Homo sapiens: one gene and its partners. The protein of the gene in region 6 purifies or fractionates together with the protein of the main gene of each other region. This does not show direct contact. Each region holds a gene or a part of one and is shown on either strand. Other genes may lie near its edges.

Region 1 (2,328 bases), on a different chromosome or scaffold from region 6:
AAAAAAACTATGTATGACTTGATGGAGAGCTTTACATAAAGTCCAAGGAGCCATTTGAAAGCTTGCATCAATTCGAGAAGCAGACTGGACTGTGGCTAACTAAGGCAGTTTACTAATAGTGTGAAGAGAGGGAGTGTAATATTGATATGGCAAAAGAGAATTGTTGCTTTGGTGTTAACCAGGTGTCCCTTCTCTGCAGTGATGTTTATCCATGCATCGTTGAGACTTCGGAACCTCAAGAACAAACTGGAGAATAAAATGGAAGGAATAGGTTTGAAGAGGACACCGATGGGCATTGTCCTGGATGCCCTAGAACAGCAGGAAGAAGGCATCAACAGACTCACTGACTATATCAGCAAAGTGAAGGAATAAACATAACTTACCTGAGCTAGGGTTGCAGCAGAAATTGAGTTGCAGCTTGCCCTTGTCCAGACCTATGTTCTGCTTGCGTTTTTGAAACAGGAGGTGCACGTACCACCCAATTATCTATGGCAGCATGCATGTATAGGCCGAACTATTATCAGCTCTGATGTTTCAGAGAGAAGACCTCAGAAACCGAAAGAAAACCACCACCCTCCTATTGTGTCTGAAGTTTCACGTGTGTTTATGAAATCTAATGGGAAATGGATCACACGATTTCTTTAAGGGAATTAAAAAAAATAAAAGAATTACGGCTTTTACAGCAACAATACGATTATCTTATAGGAAAAAAAAAATCATTGTAAAGTATCAAGACAATACGAGTAAATGAAAAGGCTGTTAAAGTAGATGACATCATGTGTTAGCCTGTTCCTAATCCCCTAGAATTGTAATGTGTGGGATATAAATTAGTTTTTATTATTCTCTTAAAAATCAAAGATGATCTCTATCACTTTGCCACCTGTTTGATGTGCAGTGGAAACTGGTTAAGCCAGTTGTTCATACTTCCTTTACAAATATAAAGATAGCTGTTTAGGATATTTTGTTACATTTTTGTAAATTTTTGAAATGCTAGTAATGTGTTTTCACCAGCAAGTATTTGTTGCAAACTTAATGTCATTTTCCTTAAGATGGTTACAGCTATGTAACCTGTATTATTCTGGACGGACTTATTAAAATACAAACAGACAAAAAATAAAACAAAACTTGAGTTCTATTTACCTTGCACATTTTTTGTTGTTACAGTGAAAAAAATGGTCCAAGAAAATGTTTGCCATTTTTGCATTGTTTCGTTTTTAACTGGAACATTTAGAAAGAAGGAAATGAATGTGCATTTTATTAATTCCTTAGGGGCACAAGGAGGACAATAATAGCTGATCTTTTGAAATTTGAAAAACGTCTTTAGATGACCAAGCAAAAAGACTTTAAAAAATGGTAATGAAAATGGAATGCAGCTACTGCAGCTAATAAAAAATTTTAGATAGCAATTGTTACAACCATATGCCTTTATAGCTAGACATTAGAATTATGATAGCATGAGTTTATACATTCTATTATTTTTCCTCCCTTTCTCATGTTTTTATAAATAGGTAATAAAAAATGTTTTGCCTGCCAATTGAATGATTTCGTAGCTGAAGTAGAAACATTTAGGTTTCTGTAGCATTAAATTGTGAAGACAACTGGAGTGGTACTTACTGAAGAAACTCTCTGTATGTCCTAGAATAAGAAGCAATGATGTGCTGCTTCTGATTTTTCTTGCATTTTAAATTCTCAGCCAACCTACAGCCATGATCTTTAGCACAGTGATATCACCATGACTTCACAGACATGGTCTAGAATCTGTACCCTTACCCACATATGAAGAATAAAATTGATTAAAGGTTTTTTTGGTGAGACTTTATTTAATGCACATCTGTCTTAAATACCTGAGAAACTTGGCGACGACCCTATAAACAGTGAAGCAAACACTTCAGCTGTTTCAAATACTGTTTAGTAAAGCTTGAATACTTTATTAACTTGCAGCCAGAATAAAACAATTCCAGTGGGATCCTATTTTTAAACCTGGCACGAGTTTTATATACATGTTAGCCCAGTTTTATATACATGTTAGCCCATTCCATTTTCTACAAGGTGAATTCTGCCGATAAAATCCAATAAATTTGGAGAAACTAATAAAAAAAAAGATACCTGTAATTACTAATGGCCAGTAGTCAATTCTGGAAGGGTAATAACAGAAAAATGTAACATATAAATGTTGTAAATTATGATTACATTTAAAAACAAGCTAAAATCTGCAACTAAGATCTTTAGGGTTGGGTGGTAGAAAAAGCATAATGTGAACTGCTTCACCTCTTTTGGCAAAACCTGTGTATTGAGGCCATAAGCTATGAAATTGGATCATCTTTTCTT
Region 2 (3,500 bases), on a different chromosome or scaffold from region 6:
TTTTGGGTGGATTATATTCTTTTCTGTCCCCTTTAAAGCCTTCCTTGACTGAACAGACAGGAAGAGTGTAAAAACAAAATTTAGAACAAAGCACATTTTAACAGCAAAAGTTATCGAAATATCCCTGCCATTATTTCCTACTCTCTGCTTAATTTTGTGTTTGCCAAATAAATAATCTTATCCCAAAAAATAAAAGATGATGGATTGGGCCATTTGTAATATTTTAGCATAACTACAAAAATTATTTGTCTATGTTAAGATGTCACTGCTAAATTCTCATCAAAAGGAACACTTTCCATAGAATTCGGGGTAGTGATTCTCCATCTCTATTTGAAGAGCCCATGTACAAAAGATCACTCGTGAATCAAATTTACTCAAATTTTAGGATAACCCATGGGTTATTATGAGCATTTTCATTCTGCTATTTCCTCTTACTCTATGCTCTGTACAGGCCAGGAGCCACTCTGTTTTTCCCTTATTATTAGGTATAAGCCTCCTGAAGGGTTTTTTGACTTTTAAATTATTTTTCTGAAAAGTTGCTTTGTAGTGCTGGATCACCAGAAAAAAACATAGTGTTTAAAAATGGTGTTAAAAAAGATATTTAATTTGGGGTGAAACAATGTTACAAAGTTTAATGAATTCAACACTGAAAGAAGAAGCTGCTGCCAAATTCCCTTTTTATCTCCTGTTGCAACTTTCTGCCTTAAGATCCCTTTTCAAAACATGGCCAGTCACTACTCTGCTGATTAGGCGTAAGTATAAATATGTAGGCTGTGGTCACTCCATGTACTTACAGTCAGAAGAATGGCAATATGATAATTGTATATCTAGAAAAATATGCTGTACTTGGGTAGGAGAATGGGGCCAGAAACAAAGAAAACAGCTTTAGTGACAGTTCTGAAATGTGAGCCCAAACAGAAAAGTGTAATACGCCACCAAAAGTATTTTTAAGATACACATACAGGACAGCTATTGAAAGTCTTACATAGCACACAAGTTATTAAAATAAAAATTTTCAAAGAGCTATGAATGAACCTTTCAGAGAAAAAATGTTGAAACAGCAATCATAATTTAAAAATTGACATATGAATGTGACCAGTGCTGACATATGATTTATCCTAAATCTGAGCACATTCCTGGTTTACAGCCTCAGCATCATTTAGTCATTCTTAAAAGCTGGAGCAAGCTCTTGCAGGCAGTCTGGGAGCTATACCTTTCCCTCGTGCCGGATGGCCGAGATGGGCGTGACTTCTTCCCCCTTCCTCCGTTTGTCCTCTTCCTCGTCCCGCTCCTCCTCAGCCTTCTTCTCCGGAGTCACAGTGGTGATCAAGTTGGTCTGAGAGATGCCTTTTGTTGTGGCGTACTGGCCAGTACCAACCTCTGCAGCAGACATAGAATCCTTCATGTATATTTCATGGTTTTCATTCACTGATGCTAAAAGCAAATACAATTAAAGAAATAAAATCCAAAATAGTTAGGTCAGAAGACACATGAACAATACCAACTATATCTTTACTGAAAAAAAAAATACCAACACAAAATACCAGGTTTGCCTTGAAAAAACAAATCAGTGCTGCAGGGACCTTCATGAGAGCATGACCTTCCTGTATTTCCTATATGAGTGCTTTAAAATTCGTGAAATGCTCATGTCTTGGAATTTCATCTATCCTCAGACTCTCTGCTGAGGATGTGTGTAAGTGTGGAGGTGAGTGGAGGGTCATGAGGCGAGGCTGCCGCTGGGCATATTATCACCATTGGCTGGCACTGGCACCAGTCTCGTAGTGGCCAATTCCACACCTAACAGCAGTCTTTGCAGTACACAATTGCTCTAATACACTTGGCTCTTTGGAAGTGCCATTCACCAAGGAGCACTGAATTGGTTTTCATATTATTATTATTAATGTTGAAAAGTCTATCACTCTTACAGTATAAAAGCTCCATGGGTAATAACAAATATTAACCATCTTGGTAGAGATTATAAAAATCAGATGGCAATTCCATTCACCTAAAGTACAGAAATGTTTTCATTTCTACTGCATTTTAAACAGACTACCATAATATGCATATACATTTACTCATCTCTAATATTTTGGGAAAACACAATGAATGTTGCTAAATGAAATTCATGCAAATGCAAAACATGCAAACTCAAGAGAATAAGACAGAGCCTTTCATCCCAGCTAAAACGTCTTAGTGAAAAGATGCTTAATTAAGTTTTAAAAGTTGGTACTCATTATTTTAGGTTTTAGATATAAAATTTATTAAAACTTATAAATGTTGCTTTTCAAATACACAGTAACTAATCACAGACAAAATATCTACATTATTATTTTAGGAATTTAAAAACGTAAATAAAAGAAAGGATTCTGAAATGAAATCCTCTCTGAAATGCTTTCGATAGCTAAACTATGTCACTAAAATATCTTCACTAAGACATTTTATATCTCTTTACACCGTTGAAAAAGCTCATATGAGACACAACTTCCTAATGGACCAGTTAGGCCATTCTCTGTGAGATGCAACCTTGCAAAAAAGCAGTTTATGTTGCAACATGCAGCTGTGCCACCCAGCTCAACAGCAGCAGAAAACATACTAGAGCTGGCAGGACCGCAAGGAGTGAGAGACAACACATACTAACATCACTTTTGGGCAGGGAGAAAGAGACAGCATGACATTAGTACACTGATTTCACAATTGTCTTCTGTCTTCTCAGCAGTCATTATCACACTAAAGGTCATAAGGAAAACAACATTCACAACAAATGTGTTCCCTGGGGTGCACGTCACTGAACAAAGTGGATGATATTCAGGAAAAAAAAAGTGCGATTCTACAAAGTTCCTCAAATACTGATAACATATAGAAATAGGTAATAGAGACACTCTAAAGGAGAAACAAGAGTCAATAGGATAAACCAGAAAGAAAAGCTTCAATGTTAACATCGATATTTCAATATCTTAATTCAGCTCGAAACAGTCCTGGTAATTATTTTATTCAAAAGGGCTGGCTCTAAGTTCGGTATTCTGGAAACTCTTAGAAGACACACAATGGCAATTAACTTCCTAGGCTAGCTCACAAAAGCCTGTAAGAATAATTATGAATATAAAATGTGGTATATATACATCATGGAATACTACTCAGTCATAAAAATGAATGAAATCATGTATTTTGAAGTGACTTGGATGGAGCTGAAGGTCATTATTCTACATGAAGTAACTGAGGAATGAAAAGCCAAATACCATACGTTCTCATGTATAAGTGGGAGCTAAGCTATGGGTATGCAAAGGCACAGAGTAATATAATGGACACTGGAGACTCAGAAGGCAGACAGTGGCGGGGGTGGTGGTGACGGATAAAAAACTACATATTGGGTACAATGTGCACTACTCAGGTGACAGGTGCACTAAAATCTCAGACTTCACTACTATACAATTCAGCCATGTGGCCAAAAACCGACTGCTTGTATCTCAAAAGCTACTGAAATTTTAAAAAAATGTGAAAAA
Region 3 (2,682 bases), on a different chromosome or scaffold from region 6:
ATCAAACTGACAATTAATAAAATGGTTGTCATTTCCTCTTCCTTCTCTGCCATAATCTACCATCAGCATATGACCATAGAAAGATGACAAATTTTTAGATAACCTAACCAACCCATATATGATTAAACTGACCTTTCCTTACTAAAATAAAATACACTTACTCCATGTCTTCACTGCTTTTATCCCCTCTAATGTGAAAATAGCCTCAAAATGATCTTCTAAGACACAAAAGAGGACTTAAACAGTGTCATTTGTCACTTGCTTTATGCAAACATTCGAGTGTACCTCTTTCACCACAGGGCTAGAGATGGTCTACTCTGTACATACATTTCACAACAAAGAAAAATTCTGTCATTCCCCAACTCTATGACCAAGGAAAACTTTTAGGATTTCTTTAATTTGTAGCAGAGACACAGTGGCCTAGCCAATCGGCAGTGCTATACACACAGTATGCCAGTTTCCCACCCCTACCCTCTTTCTCCTTTTTTAAAGCTTCAAAGGTTAGATCAATAAAATTTAAAATTTCCTCATTTAAGGAGAAATATAATGACCCACATGTTAATTTATATTAAAAACTAAAAATAAATAATGGGGTTCTTAAACAAGGACATCTTTAACTAGGTTATGATTAGACCAGCCTGTGGGTGAAATGAGAGATTATCTCTTCTCCCTGGAAATGTCTTCAAGGCTCAGACAATTCAGTAGTTTTTAAAAGGCCCCAACTCACACATCTCAGGTGAAAAGTATAGGCAATGGGCAACAAACAAGACGCTAGTATGCACTTGGCTTCTGATAAATTGAAACAAAGATTTGGTGGCCCAGCCTAATAAATGACAGCACGAAACTAGAGGTTTAAAGTAAGTTTTGACATCACATATAGATCCCTCAACCCTAAGTTACTTTGGAGGGAAGCCATGAGAGGCTGGATCAGTCCTCAAGCCTCAGCTAAGGATGGATCCTATTTCTTCCCAGTGCAAAACACCAAATGTACCTATAAGGTGGAGTCGGCAAGGAGAGTTCCCCTCTTACTTTGAAGCAAGAGATGGAAAAAGTCAGAAAGATTTCTAGATAAAATTGAGAAACACAAAAGGCAAAGTAAAGTCAATTTAAACAGGCCTCACAAAAATCAGCCGGAATTCTTATTAAAAAAAACAAAACAGAACATTCATGGATGGGCAAAGAAAGGAAACAATGCAGACGCCTTTGGACTTCAAGAGAAAGCCCATCAGGAATCTCTGAGAGTGTCAGCTGAGAGAGTTCTGTCTCTCTCCATGTAGGATCCTTTCTGCATCATGTATATCCCAAAAGGAGTTCTGCGTGAAGGTCATCCATCTTCCCTACAGTTCTTAGCTGAGCACTGACACACACACATACTCCACCAATCCACCAAACTGCAGCTGTAGCTGCTTATCTGACCCACACTCCCCTGGCTCTCCACTTTTAGGCACAGTCTTTGTTCTTTATCGCCAGGCCCGATTCAGGAGCTTCACCTGTGCCAGTCTCTTAGTGATCATGGTGGCAAAAACCAGGCCAAAGAGGACGCTGCTGATTAACACGTAGTCATAGTCATCCTTCAGAACGTCAAACTGCTTGGATGGGTAGACTCGAGTTTGGTAAATGTCCAAACCATAGGCCACAACCTGGAAGGCAGATGGAATAAGAATTAGGAAAGAAACAACCAATGATCCACCAAGGGTGAAATAGGGCAGCTGTGGGCTCTACTCACCAAACAAGTGGACTCCAGACCCGAGGGAGCTGTGTAGATACCTCGCATTCGAGAAACTGTCTGGTTATAGTTGATGAATCGCTCTGCGTGTATCTGTACATCTGGAGAATACGGGATTAAGTTCTCCTCTCTGCAAAACACCAGCCGGGACAGGCAGTCTGAGCACTGCTGTAAAGGGATCTCTTGGCTGCCCTTCCTGAGTCCTGGGAGGTTTCCAGGCTACATATCTAGCCTCAAATCTCCTAGGAGGTCTGCTTGCATTAGGTAGTTAAAAATTTAGCAGCTGAATGTTAGGAAGGACTACAAGAAAGGAAGCTCTCTGGAGAGTAAGACTGAGATCTAGATTCCTACTTTGTTCTAAATCTGAAAAGAAAGAACATACAGATGACTGGCACTTCACACCACAAGAGGAAAGCCGACCATTTTAAAGCCAACACACTGAACCACTAAGCTAATTCCTGCTCTCCACTCCAGGGTGCCTCTCAGTCCCCATTTCTCTGAAACCTGATTATCATCCTGTGTCTTTTCCTAGCTTTAACCTCCTCTCTCTCATATACTTCTCCAAAACACACTCCTCTCCATTCCTCATGCCCCTAGGCAAAGAAATTCAGGATGGAGGTAAGAAAACCCGACAAGATGGTGGTTGTTAATACAACAATACCAACAGTGAATAAGATATTGGCTTGCCCACATGGTCTGGCCCGAATTACCTCAGTGATCTCATTTCCTAGCGTTGCCCTCCGCAAACTCACCAGACATGATCTCAGGGGATTTGCATTGCCTGTTCCCTCTGCCTAGAAAGTTCTTCCTCAGGTATCTACACAGCTAGCTCCTTCACCTCCTTCAGGCCTTCACTCAAAATGCACCTTCTCAAAGGGGCTTTCCCAGGCCACCTCTCAAATTACACCCACGCACATCCCCATCCCCACTTCCTAGCTCATTCCTGTTTTACTCTG
Region 4 (3,500 bases), on a different chromosome or scaffold from region 6:
TCTGAGAGAATAAATATGTGTTTTTTGAAGCCCCTACATTTGTGGTAAGTTGTTGCCCAGCTCAGAAAACTAATACAGCGTGTGTCTCAGGGATGCTTCCAGTGACCTCTTCCAGTCTCCCGCTCCTTGAGGGCCCTATCATCAACAGCATGACATCAGGCAAAAAAAAAAAAAAAACATTCAACAATGCCTTGTGGCGACCTACCTCCAGAAACTCGAACTCATCCCTCTTGGTCAGGCTCTGTTCAATCTCCTCCTTCAAGGTCTGGATCTCACTCTTCTTCTTGAGGAGAATCTGATAAATGGTGTCAAACTTGCTGTTGACCCTCTTCTCCTCTTCCTTTATCTTCCTTGTCGAGGTGGTCTCTGAGGCGTCCAAGAGAGCCTTCATTTCCGTGTATTCTTGTTGTAGCTGCTCCACCTTTCTGTTTGCAGTCATCTGAGAGGGCCAAGGTAAGAGGATGCCCGTCAAAGGGGCAAAAGTGCTAAGGCTGCAGCCCCAAGCATGGGTGAGATGTGGAGTTCCAGGAACTCTTACCTGTACTTTGTGGGAGAACAAACCACTGTGGGGAGCAACTTGGCAATATCTAATAAATTTGGAGGTGCTCATAGGCTATGACTCGGCAACTCCAGTCCTAGGAATATGTGCTACAAAAAATTGCAGCCACCTGCCCCTGAGACATGCATAAGAATGTTCACAGGCAGCATTGTCTGAAGTAGCAAAAACCTGGAATCAACCTGAACATCCATCAGAAGAAGACTTGAAGCAAAGACTGGGAGCTATTCATAGGATGGAATATTAAACAGTTATGAAAATTAATAAACTGGAGCTATGCCTGGATAAATCTCCATGAGAGAAAAACAACTTGCAGAAGAAGATCCACCATATGATGCTCTTTCAATAAAGCTTAGAAACAAACAGAATGGCTATATGCACAAAGAAACGCATGGGAATGAATAAATAAATTCAGGAGAGTGGTTACTTCTGGAAGAGAGGAAGAGGGATAGAATAAGGGAGAAACAGATGGGAGGGGCTGCATCGATGATATTTTATTTCTTAAGCTAAAGGTGGTTCATGGGCAATTTTTAAAAATAAAAGTCAGCAAGAGATCAAGACCATTCTGGCCAACATGGTGAAACCCCATCTCTACTAAAAATACAAAAATTAGCTGGTTGTGGCAGCGCGCACCTGTAGTCCCAGCTACTCAGGAGGCTGAGGGAGGAGAATCGCTTGAACCCAGGAGGCAGAGGTTACAGTGAGCCGAGATCGTGCCACTGCACTCCAGCCTGGGAGACACAGCGAGACGCTATCTCAAAAAAATAAAATAAAATAAAACAAAACAAAAAGTCAGGATGCAGCTCTGGAAAATTTCTAGAGAATATCATGCTCTAGGATTGTACTTTCCAATAACATAGCCACTTGCTACATGTGGCTACTGAGCACTTGAAATGTGGTTAGTCCAAACTGAGACTTGCCATGAGTGTAAAATACATACTGGCTTTCAAGGGTTTCACACCAAAAAAAGGAATGTAAAATATCTTAAAACTTTTAAATTGATGATATGTTGAAAGAATAATATTTAAGATATACCAAATTAAATAAACTATAATATTAAAATTAATCTCAGTCAAGTGCAGTGATTCATGCTCATAATCCCAGCACCTTGGGAGACCGAGGCAGGAGGATCGCTTGAGGCCAGGAGTTCAAGACCAGCCTGGGCAACATAGACAGACTGTTTCTCTACAAAAATAAAAATAAAAAAATTAGATGGACTGTATTCCTGGAGAGTGGGGGTGGTGAAGGGGAGTAGGCTCAGTCAGGAAGATTACTTGAGCCCAGGAGTTCAAAGCTGCAGTGAGCTATGATTGTTCCACTGCACTCCAGCCTGGGTGATAGAGTGAGACCTGTCCTAAAAAAGATAGATAAATAAAATACAATAAATCTCATGTACTATTCAAATTAACTTAAAATGACATCTGCACTCCTACTGTATTTCTGCTGGACAGCACTGCTTTAGTAGCTGCAATTTTGTTTCACATCTTGGGTAGCCTCAATAGCTGCTATGGTTTGAATGTCTCCTCCAAAGCTCATGCTGAGATTTAATTGCCACTGAGGTGATTAGATCACGAGGGCTCTGCCCTCATGAATGGATTCATATTCTTATCACAGGGTTTGACCTCCTTCTTCCTGTCCCGCTCTCCTGCCTTCCATCCTTCCGCTATGGATGATCCTCACCAGATGCTGGAAGCATGCTCTTGGACCTCTCAGGCTCCAGAACTTTGAGCCAAATAAACTTCTCTTCTTTGCAAATACCCAGTCTGTGGTATTCCGTTATAGCAGCAGAAAACAGACTAAGACAATAGCTCAGAATCAAACATAACAAAGAGAAAAACACACAAGAAGGACAGTAGACTGGAAAAGAGGAATTCAAGTATTTCTTCGCCAATATTTTTTTTTTTTGAGATGAAGTTTCACTCTTGTCACCCAGGCTGAAGTGCAATGACATGACCTCGGCTCACTGCAACCTCTGCCTCCCGGGTTCAAGTAATTATCCTACCTCAGCCTCCTGAGTAGCTGGAACTATAGGCATGCACCACCACGCCCGGCTAATTTTTTGTATTTTTAGTAGAGATGGGGTTTCGCCATGTTGGCCAGGCTGGTCTTGAACTGCTGACCTCAGGTGATCCATGCGTCTCGGCCTCCCAAAGTGCTGGGATTACAGGCGTGAGCCATTGCGCCCAGCCTTCTTTGCCAATCTTTCACTGTGCAACTTCTAATGTGACTACAAGTGTCCCCCAGTGTTCATTTTCCCTTTTTTCCTTTTGGTAAGAGAACATCCCTGGAGTTTCATCTGGGCGTGTGGCTACTCAGACTACATTTCCCAGCCTCCCCTGCAGCTAGACTAGGCGATGTGACAAAACTCCTTCCAGTGACCCATGCCCAGGAGTGATATGTGCAACACTGTGTCACTTGTGTAAAGGAAAATTGCTTGTTGTCCTCCACCTCCTTTTTGTCCCTTTGTCACAGGCTAGAACAAAGATGTAATGGTAACCCAGCTTCAACCAAAGAGGCTGGGACAATACCTTGTGGAATAGTAGGGTAATAAGAAGGGAGAACCCTTAATCCCTGAATGATCACATGAACCCTTAGTCTGGGTTACTCATGTGTGGGTTTGGACTGTCAGTTGGTAAAATAAACTTCAATCATATTTAAGCCTCTGAATTCTGGTGTATCTTTGTTACAGCAGTATAGCCTGCCCTCTAACAAATACAGGTACTTTCACGTGCATTCTTTCATTTGTCTCACAGTCATCTTCAGAAAGAACTTGTGATTCCATTGTGCAAATTGGGAAACGAAGGTTCAAAGATCTGTCAACATGACCAAAGCAACATAAACTAGTATGTGACAGAGCTGGTATTCTAACCTAGATCTCATCTAATGAAACCATAACTGCTGCAATAAAACTGGTGCTGCAGCTCTGAAAAAGGGTAAAAATCTG
Region 5 (3,066 bases), on a different chromosome or scaffold from region 6:
GTTCAGTCGAACGTTCTTTTAGTAGTACTGTGGGATTGATATCATCTAGTCCGGAGCGGGAAGAACTTGCATTGATGGTGACTGTTTTAATGAGCTCTGGATCTGGAACACTGAATGAAGTAAAGGGACAGCCCTTCACGTTATTGCAGATGAGAGACTGAATTGAGGCAGTGTTGATGATTTGAAAACCCACTTCTCCACCAAAAGTGCTTGGCTTCCAGTAGGCAGGAGAACATATAACATTACCCATAAGTCCTTTCAAGGAGAATGGTGCTCCAACTTCTACCATGGTTTCACCAAAGATGGCATCTGGCCGAGGCTTTTCTACCAGAAGGGCAGGATACAGCTCCACAGCATCGATGTCACCATAGAGTGCTTCCAACTCTGCAGACATTTCCTTTTCTCCTGTGAAGGCGATGAAGACAGAGATACAACCAATGTCAAACTTCACAAAATAAAAAACAGTTTGATTCTTTTGCTCAATTTGCTGCCAACTTCTCTGTTTCCATTTGACCCCTGATTCTTTTAAGAAGTTTAGGGGCCAGGCGCGGTGGCTCACGCCTGTAATCCCAGCACTTCGGGAGGCCGAAGCCGGCGGATCACTAGGTCAGGAGTTTGAGACCAGCCTGGCTAACACGGTGAAACCCCGTCTATACTGAAAATACAAAAAATTATCCATGCGTGCGACGTGAGCCTGTAGTCCCAGCTACTCAGGAAGTTGAGGCAGGAGAATTGCTTGAACCCAGGAGGCGGAGGTTGCAGTGAGCCGAGATGGCGCCACTGCACTCCAGCCTGGGTGACAGAGGGCGGCTCCATCTCGAAAAGAAAACCAAAAACAACAAAAACAAACAAACAAACAAAAAACGAAGAAGTTTAGAAACTGTTTCTTACCTGTAAGTTCTTCAAATGATTCATAGGGCTTCAGCATAAAGCGTTTGCGGTACTCATTAAAAGACTGGTATTTCATCTGCCTGCTCTGGTCAATGGAAGCCTGTGATACTTTCTGTACTGCGGGTGGAACATTCCTACCACCAGCAACCTGTGGAAAGTAAAATTAGTTGTAAAACAAGAATTTTAGGCATATTTACTGTTTGTATTCAGCTTGCCTTAGGTACAAATCAGGTAAAACTGAAACTCCCAGCGGAGACAATTTTTATTTGCTGGAAAGATGCTTACCTACATTTCAACAGGAGCTCTGCTTAAAATTCAATGGGACACCAGCCTAGAACTAATTTGCCTTTTTACATTTCAAAAATAACACTAGTATTCAAGCCTAAAATATTTATTCCTATAAGATTATAGATACTTTTTGAAAATATTTTTAAGGTAGGGGTACAATTTGCTATTTGTCTGACAACTGTAGACTAGACTAAAAGTTTAGACTTTTCAAACAAAGTTAGGCTTCTTATATCAATAAAATAATTTTACTAGCAATATAACTAACTACTCTTTTAGTAAGTTTAAGAAAAATAATTTCCGTGGCAGAAATTCTAAAGTTACTGACTAGTCTTTTGTTTTGGTTTTCAATAATAATGCTTACCCTGCCAGCAATTTGCCTGGTGAATGATTCAACAAACTGGGTAATTCCATGTTCCAGCAATATAGAGTTGTTGTAGATAAACTGTTGATAGTTGTATTTCTGGTCATGAATTTGAAAGGTGTCAGGCAGAAGGGGATGCCAGTGATAGAGGGTGTTAAATTCAGCAGCAATACGATTTTGGTACTGGAATTGTTTGTTGAAAAGTAGTTCTGGGTCAAATTTCAGTTTGAAGTGATAGCCACTCAAGTGTTGCACATAATCTTCAATCACAATCTTAATAGTCTCTCCTATTTGCACAAAATAAATAATAAAAACATTTATTGCATCTGATCACAAGCTTTCAAGCAACTGGAATGCAATTTTTAAAATTTGCTATTCCTTCATTTCTGTTTTCTTCCTTGTCAGTATCAAAAGATAGCTATTTTATCAGTCATGCTTACATATTTAATGTATATAGAATGTGTGAGTTTTCATTTACCACATCTTGTCATTTACTCAAAACATAACAAAGATAGCACACTAATTTTCCCTGGGGAAGAGGGTTTTATATAAATCATTTTCTTGTTTACCTATCAGTATTAGCCTGCTTGTCTGGAACAACTGCTCATCACCCCATTCAGGATGCTCCTGTTTAAGCACATCGCATACTCTGTTGTGTTCCCGCAGCCAGATTGTGGCATACATCATCAGACCAGGCACCAGACCAAAGACCTCCTGCCCCACAGCAAACCGTAGATGCTCAGGGACTTGAGGAGGGTAGATCATCTCTGCCTGAGTATCTTTGACTGTGGGAGGATACATCTCTCCATCAATTATCTAAAAAAATAAATAAATAAATAAACATCAGTTAAAAAGTTAAGGAACACATTTTTAGGGATTTTAAAATATGGGTATAAGCGGTAATAACTAAGTCTTAATAGTCAAAGGAAGCATACCTGATATTTCATTTTTCCATCCTTGAAAAGGCGCAGTTTACGCTGTCTAGCCAGAGTTTCACCGTAAATATGATTTAAGTCCACCTAGAAAATGATGAAAAAATTTTAATTTGTTGCTGTTGAAGTTTTTCTTATATAAAGTGTCTATCATATAATTCATCATTAAATAATTTGATCATTTAGCTTTCTTTAAAATTTTTAAATAAAATATACATTTTTCATAGCCATGAATTGCTAAATTAATTTGTTTATCCACCAAAGCTACAAACTGATATGTCTTTGTGTTTAACGGAATTAATATACTATATTGAGCTTATATCATATATATTATATACTTCACTATGATGATATGGTAATTATAAAAAAGTATAAAAATGTATTATTTATAAAAAATTCTTACGAATAACTTGAAGCTATGCTATTGAAATCCAAAAAATAATAATGCGGCAAAAACCTCACTTTACAATATTGAAAGCGGCATAATCATGGTACAATGTGTTTTTGAGGACATAACATTTTGCAGTACTAACATTTTAAACTAAAAAATACAAGGGTCAAATTACAAATAACAATACCTGTACATATGTATGT
Region 6 (3,500 bases):
TAAAATCTTCTAAACAATCTGCTACTGAAATAATTTGCCATCCAGAATCTAGTGTTTTTTTTTTTAAAGTATGAAAAGTGAGGATTTGTCTGAAATAATAAGGATCACTTGATTCGGACTTAAGTATATATCAGTCACCAAGCAAGAAAGATGATGAGCACCTGTGTGACAAATGCTAGTTTAGTAAACTGTGGCCTTTTTTGCTGGGTGGGGAGACACAACGGGTAGGCAAGAAAAGGCCCCTTCCATTCATTTAAACAAATGAAAGGCACTTAATCTTTAAAAAGAGCAATTAGAAGCCATCAAATCTACTCCTAGATATATAGGCAACAGAAATTACTATTTCTCCTCACCAAGAAGTACATATGTTCACCAAGACATGTATTAGAATGTTCATAGCAGCACCATTCATAATAGCCAAACTGGAAACTGCCCAAAAGGTCCATTAATAGCTGAATGAGTAAATAAATTGTGGTATGGTCCCATAATGAGCAACCTATAACCACATGCAACAATATGGGTGACTCTCATAATGTTGATAAAAGCAGGTAGACACAAAAGAGAACATACTTCATAATTCCACCTATAAAAAGCATAAAAACTGGCAACAACAATACATGGTATTAAAAATCAAGAGCATAGTCACCCTTAGAGAGGACAGTGACCAGAAGGAAGCAGGAGAAAGCTTTTAGAGATTCTGTTTCTTGATCTGAATGCTGGCTGTATACATGTTTTGAATTTTTAAAAACTCAAGCTATAAACTTATTATACATACACTTTCCTGCTTGTATATTGTAACTCAATAAAAAGTTTTTTAAAAAGCCACAATCTAATGGGCAACATTATTACAGAACACAGCAGAACTGTTCAACATGGACAGGACTACTAAGGAAAGATCTTAAATTACGTACCAGAACACTTGCCACTAGAGTTCTATAGCCAAACCTTGATGGATATAGAACTTCTATGCTCAGCCTATAGTCCAAGTTCATTCTCCTCCCTGCTATGTTGAAACGTCTCTCTTCCCCAATACACCCTTAAATCAGTCTCCTAAGGTTGCTGTCATCAGGTTAAATGTGATATATAAGCAAAAGCTTGGCAAATATAAGCACAAGGCTGAGTCACAGAATTGGTTGGTACCATTTCTTATTCCTGGAAATAAATTAGAGAAATCAAGAGTTCACATCTTCCCATTTCAAGTCAGGATGCTTTTAAGAAGACAAAGCAGAATAATCATCCAGCAGTTACATTTCAATTGCAATTACTAATTAAAATTAGAATCTTACTGTCCAGGAGAGAAGGAAATAAGGCATAAAGTATTGGCTGATAAATAAAAATTGGCAACTATTTTTTTTCCCATACCAACCACGTAGGAGGCAACTATTTTTGAATAGCTTATTTATCAGGCTACTTATTGGGTATTACAAACATTTTTCTATGTGTTCTACATACTAGAGGCAAGAAGTAGATAACATATTTCCTCAATTTGAAGGTACTCGTTCCTGTGTTTCTGAAATTAGAGTGTCTTACAATCAATACACTCGTTGAATGTAATTTCTACTCCCCTGTCCCCCAAAAAAGTTGCATTAAATTGATGGTGCATCGTATAATCAATGGAGTCTTAGAACAAAGTTAATATGCTATGATATTATCCTCAGATCCTAAAGAAATTGAGGCTCAGACAGGATAAATAACTTGCCTAAGGGTACACAACTAGCAGGGGACTGAGCCAGGCCTTGAGACCATGATTCAACTACTTGAAATCTAACAGCCTTTCTACTCGAATAGAAAAGGAAAAACAATTTGCTATGATTGATTTGGAAGAAATCACCTTCAAAAATGTTTTGCTACATACTTATTTTTTTCGTAGATATTATGCAAAGGAGTTAAACAAAACAGCTTAGAACTATCCTTGACTCAACGAAATAGAAACTGAAACTGAAGCTGTCTACAAAATGGGGGTAACACTTATCTCAGGATGACTGTCAGAGTTCAGTGACATGACCTCAGGGAAGTTGTAACAGGGTGATGTTATTTTGTCCAAAGAAATGAAGAAATATAGCCATGCAGGCGGCCCTGGGAGACATAACCTTAGAAAACACAAAGGCAGCAGGAATTGCCACCTCTTGTGTAGTTAATCAACGATTAATATGAAGACATTTCATTATTGTGAACTATTTGATTGATGAACATAAATCTGAGGGACTCAGAATAGGGAGAAATCGTAGACAACAGTATAATGAGTCTTAACACACACCTGTTTCAACCTATCCAAACTAAAGAAATAACATTATAAACCTCAGCGTTCTAAACCAACAAGCTACACACAAGAATCTAGAGCTGAGGAGGAAAAATAACTTGTCACTTCCAACATGAGCACACAATTCTAAATCAATCACTCCCCCATTTTTGTAAGTTGTGAAAGATTCAGCTTCTAAGGAAAAAAGGAACTTTCTAGCAGAACTCTGCTAAAGCACACCGCACACTGTCCGTGCACAGCAGCCTCTCAAATGCAGTTTTTCCTTGACTGCTTCATTTGCAAATGAGTTCCTCCAGGTGGGTCTGAAAGTTACATGTGTCCAAAATAGGCAAGAATCAGAGTAACAGGAAGAAAAGACAAGGTACAGCTGTTGGTCTTTTCACACCTGGGCAGTACACTGTCCTGCCTCCTGCTGGCAGCTGAGAAGAAATAATACAGGGAAGATGACAAAATTGTGGAAGATGTGACAAGAACGATTACTCTTTTTAATCAGTTCACCACTTTTAACCTTATACACCCGCAGCCTGTTAGGCTTATTTACATTGCTTCTTTACAATGTGCTTATTTACATCGTGTAGTCACTAGTGTCACTACACAAGTGAGGATTTTGCTAACAGGGACAACAAGCCGGTTTTGACCAGGTCCTTCTCACACATTAATATGCCACCATTGCTCCCCATGACCACACATTACCCAACAAGCCACCAGGGACAAAGTACACAACATTCTCTCAGCCAACAAATATTTAGTAAAGTAATAAACACAGAACAGTATGCAATTCCAGCTGCACTCCAGAGTCATGTTTTTATATCCAACTGCTCCCTTGGCCTCGCCACATGGATGCCTGAAAAGCATCTCAAGACTTAGCACAGCCAAAACCTAACTCTTCATCCATACCAGCCCCCACTCCCAACCCAGGTATCCCTGACCATTCCCCATCTCAGTCAAGGGCTCCGCCATCCACTCAGCTGCTCCTGTGAAAACAGTAGTATCTTTCAGTCCTGCTCGCTTCACCCATTCACTCTTTATATCCATTCGGCTGTAATCTCGTCCCCTCTGCCAAGTCTATGCCCTTTTCTCTATCTTCACAGCCACACTGATCCAAACCACCATCTCTCTGGCCTCCTAACTGGATTCATCTCTCTGATCTCATCACCTAGCCCTTCCTCCTTCAACCCCCTCCATACACACACAAAGTCCACTCCACAGAATAGTCGGGGCAATCTGTCAGTCCTTTGTT
Region 7 (2,872 bases), on a different chromosome or scaffold from region 6:
GCTGTGGGGAACCCCAGGCTGCTGTCTTGGCTGCCCTAGGTGCTCGGCTGGCAATTCCTGGGCCACCCTGACCCACAGTGAGGTCAGTAGAGACAGCCTGGTGTCCTCACAGGACGCAGCTGCAAACATAAGTGAACCGGAAAGGCTGCTCACTCCTTGGCTACCCATGTGTCCCCACATCAGTTCCTGCATCTGGAAGCAGCCGCAGTGGCGACCACACAGTGACTTCCCCCAGGACGTGTCTCTGCCCCTCCCACCCTGCTCCTGCAGAGGGCCCTGGGTCAGGGGTTCTCAAGACCCCAGAGTCCCTAACCAGAAATCAGAGGGGAAGGTTCCTACTGTACCCGCCTCCCAACCAATGGGTTTTTCCTCCTTATTCTGAACAAAGCACGCCACGCACGCAATTCCACCTCTAAGGTGGCTTCTCCAATACCCACAGGCCATTCTCCAACTATGACAAAAGTTTGGTTTTAATATCGGGCAACACAAAACACAGTACATCACTTCAGACTAAATTTTATTAAATATGGTGTCATTTGGCTACAATCGGTTTGTCTTTATAAAACTAAGTAACTTATTTTGTAGTAAAAACAACCCCAACCCACTGCCCCTCTTTGGCAGCCCTTGAAACTCAGTTCAAAGCTAGGCCTGGCTCCCGGCCATGGCCCCTGCTGCCTTCACCTGCTGAGCGCTCTAGGAAGCCTCCCAAATCCCAAGTGTCAGGCCCCCGGAGTCCATCACCTCTGCCTCAAACAGCCAAGCCCAGGGGCTTTGGGGCCGCAGGTATGAAGGCCCCTCCAGTAGCCACACCTGTGTCAGGGCTGTGCCCTGGGGCCTGGCCAACATCCCCCCTCCCCTTGAACCATCAGGAACTGGGCAAGACGCCCACCAGAGGCTTGACCACAGGGGGCGTGCATCCCCTTCTGAGCCTGGGAGACCCTAGGGGAGTGGGTAGCCTGGGCTGGACCCCTGGTGGGCTTGTGTTCTGGATGTCGCTATGGCACTTTGGTCCTCAACTCAAACCCCCACCCCTACCCAGGAGTCTGAGACCTCGGCCTTCCCTGGACTTGTTGGGCAGAAAAAGGCACCAAGGACAGGATGAGAAACCCGGAGGGGCAGCCCCACAAATGAGGGCGCTCTGACCTGTCCTCCCATTGCCACCCCACCCAGGAACAGCCCCTCAACTGGTCACAGCCACCAGGAAGCCCCAGGACTGCTCCCACACCACAGCAGTGCCCTCTTCTCCATCCCACCCTCAGGACCTACCCAGGGTCCTCCAGGCAGCCAGGGGCCAGCTCCAGGACAGGGCAGGAGAATGCGGTCCAGGTCTGGCACGTAACTGAGGGTGGGTATGCTCCAGAGAAGTAAGGCAAATGGCCCAGATGACGACCACCTGGGGTAGACCCAGGGTCTCCAGGGAATGGCTCGGGGGCAGACGCTGTGTCTGTGTGTGCAGGATCTGCCCCCACCAGCAGGAAAGGGGCAGGAGGGAGGCAAAGAGGAGGTGCCCAGGACTTGTACCCTGGCTGCCAAGCAGGGTGGGGTGTTTTCATGAGGATTGCTTTTAACCAAAAGTCCTCAGCCTTCTGCAGACCCAGGGCAGAGGCGAGTTGCTCTACATCATGTGCTTTAAGTAGAGCCCTTTGCCAGCCAGGAGGCCCAGCCACCCCCTTCCCTGCCCTGTGGCTTTGGGGGGAGACACAGAGTCACCTCAAGGCCCCAGCCCACTCAGCGCACGGTGCACACATCCAGGATGCAGAAGCGTGCGCGGCAGGTGGGGCAGGGCACGCGGCTGGCCAGCCAGGTGTCAGGGCGCAGGGGGTCCTGGCGGCTGGCGAACCACTTGCCCATGCAGGTGAGGCACCACATGGGGCGGCAGTAACACTGCTGGCACTCGCCTGTGGCTGCCTCCTGGCAGGTCTTCACCAGCTTCACGCTGGCACGTGTCTGCATGCAGCCTATGCAGGCCTCCAGCTCCTGCGGGCAGGTGGAGCGTCACCAGGAGCCCAGGCAGACACCCGTGGGCACCCACCCATCCACCCGGCCCTGGCCCAGGCCCCCCACCTGGCTGCTGGGCACTGAGTAGGCCGGGTTGACCTCTACCAGGGAGGCAAATGTCTCCAGGAACAGGTCGCCCAGGCTCTGGTGGATGACCACATGGGCTGCCCTGCGGATGGGTGCCCGGAGCTTCTCGCAGAGCTCCCCGTACTCAGTGGAGTTCAGCCTGCAGGGAGGAGAGCTGCTGGGCCCCTCTGCAGGGCAAAGGGAGCGGAAGATGGAGGCTACACCCCAAGGAGTGACAGGGCAGCTGTCGCACCAGGACCAACCAGGAGAGATGGCCCTAAGGCCAGAGCCCACGGACCCAGTGCCAGACAGCCCAGCCTGGGCACGGGACGGACCTAGGAGCAAGGCAGCTGTCCAGCCTGAGGGCTGCACTGTCCTGAGTGCTCCCCAAGAATCTGGGGGAGGTGGCTCCAGGGAGTGGAAGGGGAGGCCAAGAGTGCAGGGGGACCCGAGGGAGGGCTATGCGGGAGGGCTCAGTGACTGGTGTCTTGTGGACACCTTGCCTGGTGTCACACAAGCCCAGGAGTGTTGGAGTCCACACCAGCTACACCCAGCACCTCCCAGGGGTCGTGGCACCAGAGCCTGGCTCTGGCCTGCCATGTGCCCTCCGCAGCCCCACAGGCACCACACTCTTACCAGATGTCAAAGGCCTGCACAGCAGGGTTGGTGCTGGCCACACGGATGGTGAGGAGCTGCACGGGCAAGTTCGAGTCTGGCGAGAGCTCATGCTGCCGAGACTCCGTCACAGTCAGGTGCACGTCCTGCTGCTGGGCCACGTGCACTCGGTAGGTGGTTACCTTCATCACCC

Evidence for each region.
Region 1: the proteins of DERL1 (region 6) and ARL6IP5 purify together in Homo sapiens (affinity purification with mass spectrometry; one large-scale study listed by BioGRID and IntAct). This does not show direct contact.
Region 2: the proteins of DERL1 (region 6) and EPB41L3 purify together in Homo sapiens (affinity purification with mass spectrometry, with the first as the bait; one study listed by BioGRID). This does not show direct contact.
Region 3: the proteins of DERL1 (region 6) and EMC1 purify together in Homo sapiens (affinity purification with mass spectrometry; one large-scale study listed by BioGRID and IntAct). This does not show direct contact.
Region 4: the proteins of DERL1 (region 6) and TRIM25 purify together in Homo sapiens (affinity purification with western blotting; 2 studies listed by BioGRID, with this or other methods). This does not show direct contact.
Region 5: the proteins of DERL1 (region 6) and PTGS2 purify together in Homo sapiens (affinity purification with western blotting; 2 studies listed by BioGRID). This does not show direct contact.
Region 7: the proteins of DERL1 (region 6) and TMEM129 purify together in Homo sapiens (affinity purification with western blotting; 3 studies listed by BioGRID). This does not show direct contact.

Annotation. Positions count from the first base shown.
Region 1 is NC_000003.12:69,104,265-69,106,592, forward strand, and holds the end of ARL6IP5 (PRA1 family protein 3), read left to right. Parts: intron 1-199; coding exon 200-372; 3' UTR 373-1,828; downstream 1,829-2,328. UniProt on the Homo sapiens protein: Regulates intracellular concentrations of taurine and glutamate. Negatively modulates SLC1A1/EAAC1 glutamate transport activity by decreasing its affinity for glutamate in a PKC activity-dependent manner.
Region 2 is NC_000018.10:5,418,498-5,421,997, forward strand, and holds part of EPB41L3 (band 4.1-like protein 3), read right to left. Parts: intron 1,435-3,500; coding exon of another isoform or gene 1,381-1,434; coding exon 1,214-1,380; intron 1-1,213. UniProt on the Homo sapiens protein: Tumor suppressor that inhibits cell proliferation and promotes apoptosis. Modulates the activity of protein arginine N-methyltransferases, including PRMT3 and PRMT5.
Region 3 is NC_000001.11:19,217,843-19,220,524, forward strand, and holds part of EMC1 (ER membrane protein complex subunit 1 isoform 1 precursor), read right to left. Parts: intron 1,857-2,682; coding exon 1,727-1,856; intron 1,641-1,726; coding exon 1,461-1,640; 3' UTR 1-1,460. UniProt on the Homo sapiens protein: Part of the endoplasmic reticulum membrane protein complex (EMC) that enables the energy-independent insertion into endoplasmic reticulum membranes of newly synthesized membrane proteins.
Region 4 is NC_000017.11:56,904,050-56,907,549, forward strand, and holds part of TRIM25 (E3 ubiquitin/ISG15 ligase TRIM25), read right to left. Parts: intron 440-3,500; coding exon 206-439; intron 1-205.
Region 5 is NC_000001.11:186,674,358-186,677,423, forward strand, and holds part of PTGS2 (prostaglandin G/H synthase 2 precursor), read right to left. Parts: intron 2,560-3,066; coding exon 2,476-2,559; intron 2,357-2,475; coding exon 2,110-2,356; intron 1,828-2,109; coding exon 1,541-1,827; intron 1,040-1,540; coding exon 892-1,039; intron 406-891; coding exon 1-405. UniProt on the Homo sapiens protein: Dual cyclooxygenase and peroxidase in the biosynthesis pathway of prostanoids, a class of C20 oxylipins mainly derived from arachidonate ((5Z,8Z,11Z,14Z)-eicosatetraenoate, AA, C20:4(n-6)), with a particular role in the inflammatory response.
Region 6 is NC_000008.11:123,035,803-123,039,302, forward strand, and holds part of DERL1 (derlin-1), read right to left. Parts: intron 1-3,500. UniProt on the Homo sapiens protein: Functional component of endoplasmic reticulum-associated degradation (ERAD) for misfolded lumenal proteins. Forms homotetramers which encircle a large channel traversing the endoplasmic reticulum (ER) membrane.
Region 7 is NC_000004.12:1,715,452-1,718,323, forward strand, and holds the end of TMEM129 (E3 ubiquitin-protein ligase TM129), read right to left. Parts: coding exon 2,701-2,872; intron 2,225-2,700; coding exon 2,065-2,224; intron 1,978-2,064; coding exon 1,729-1,977; 3' UTR 501-1,728; downstream 1-500.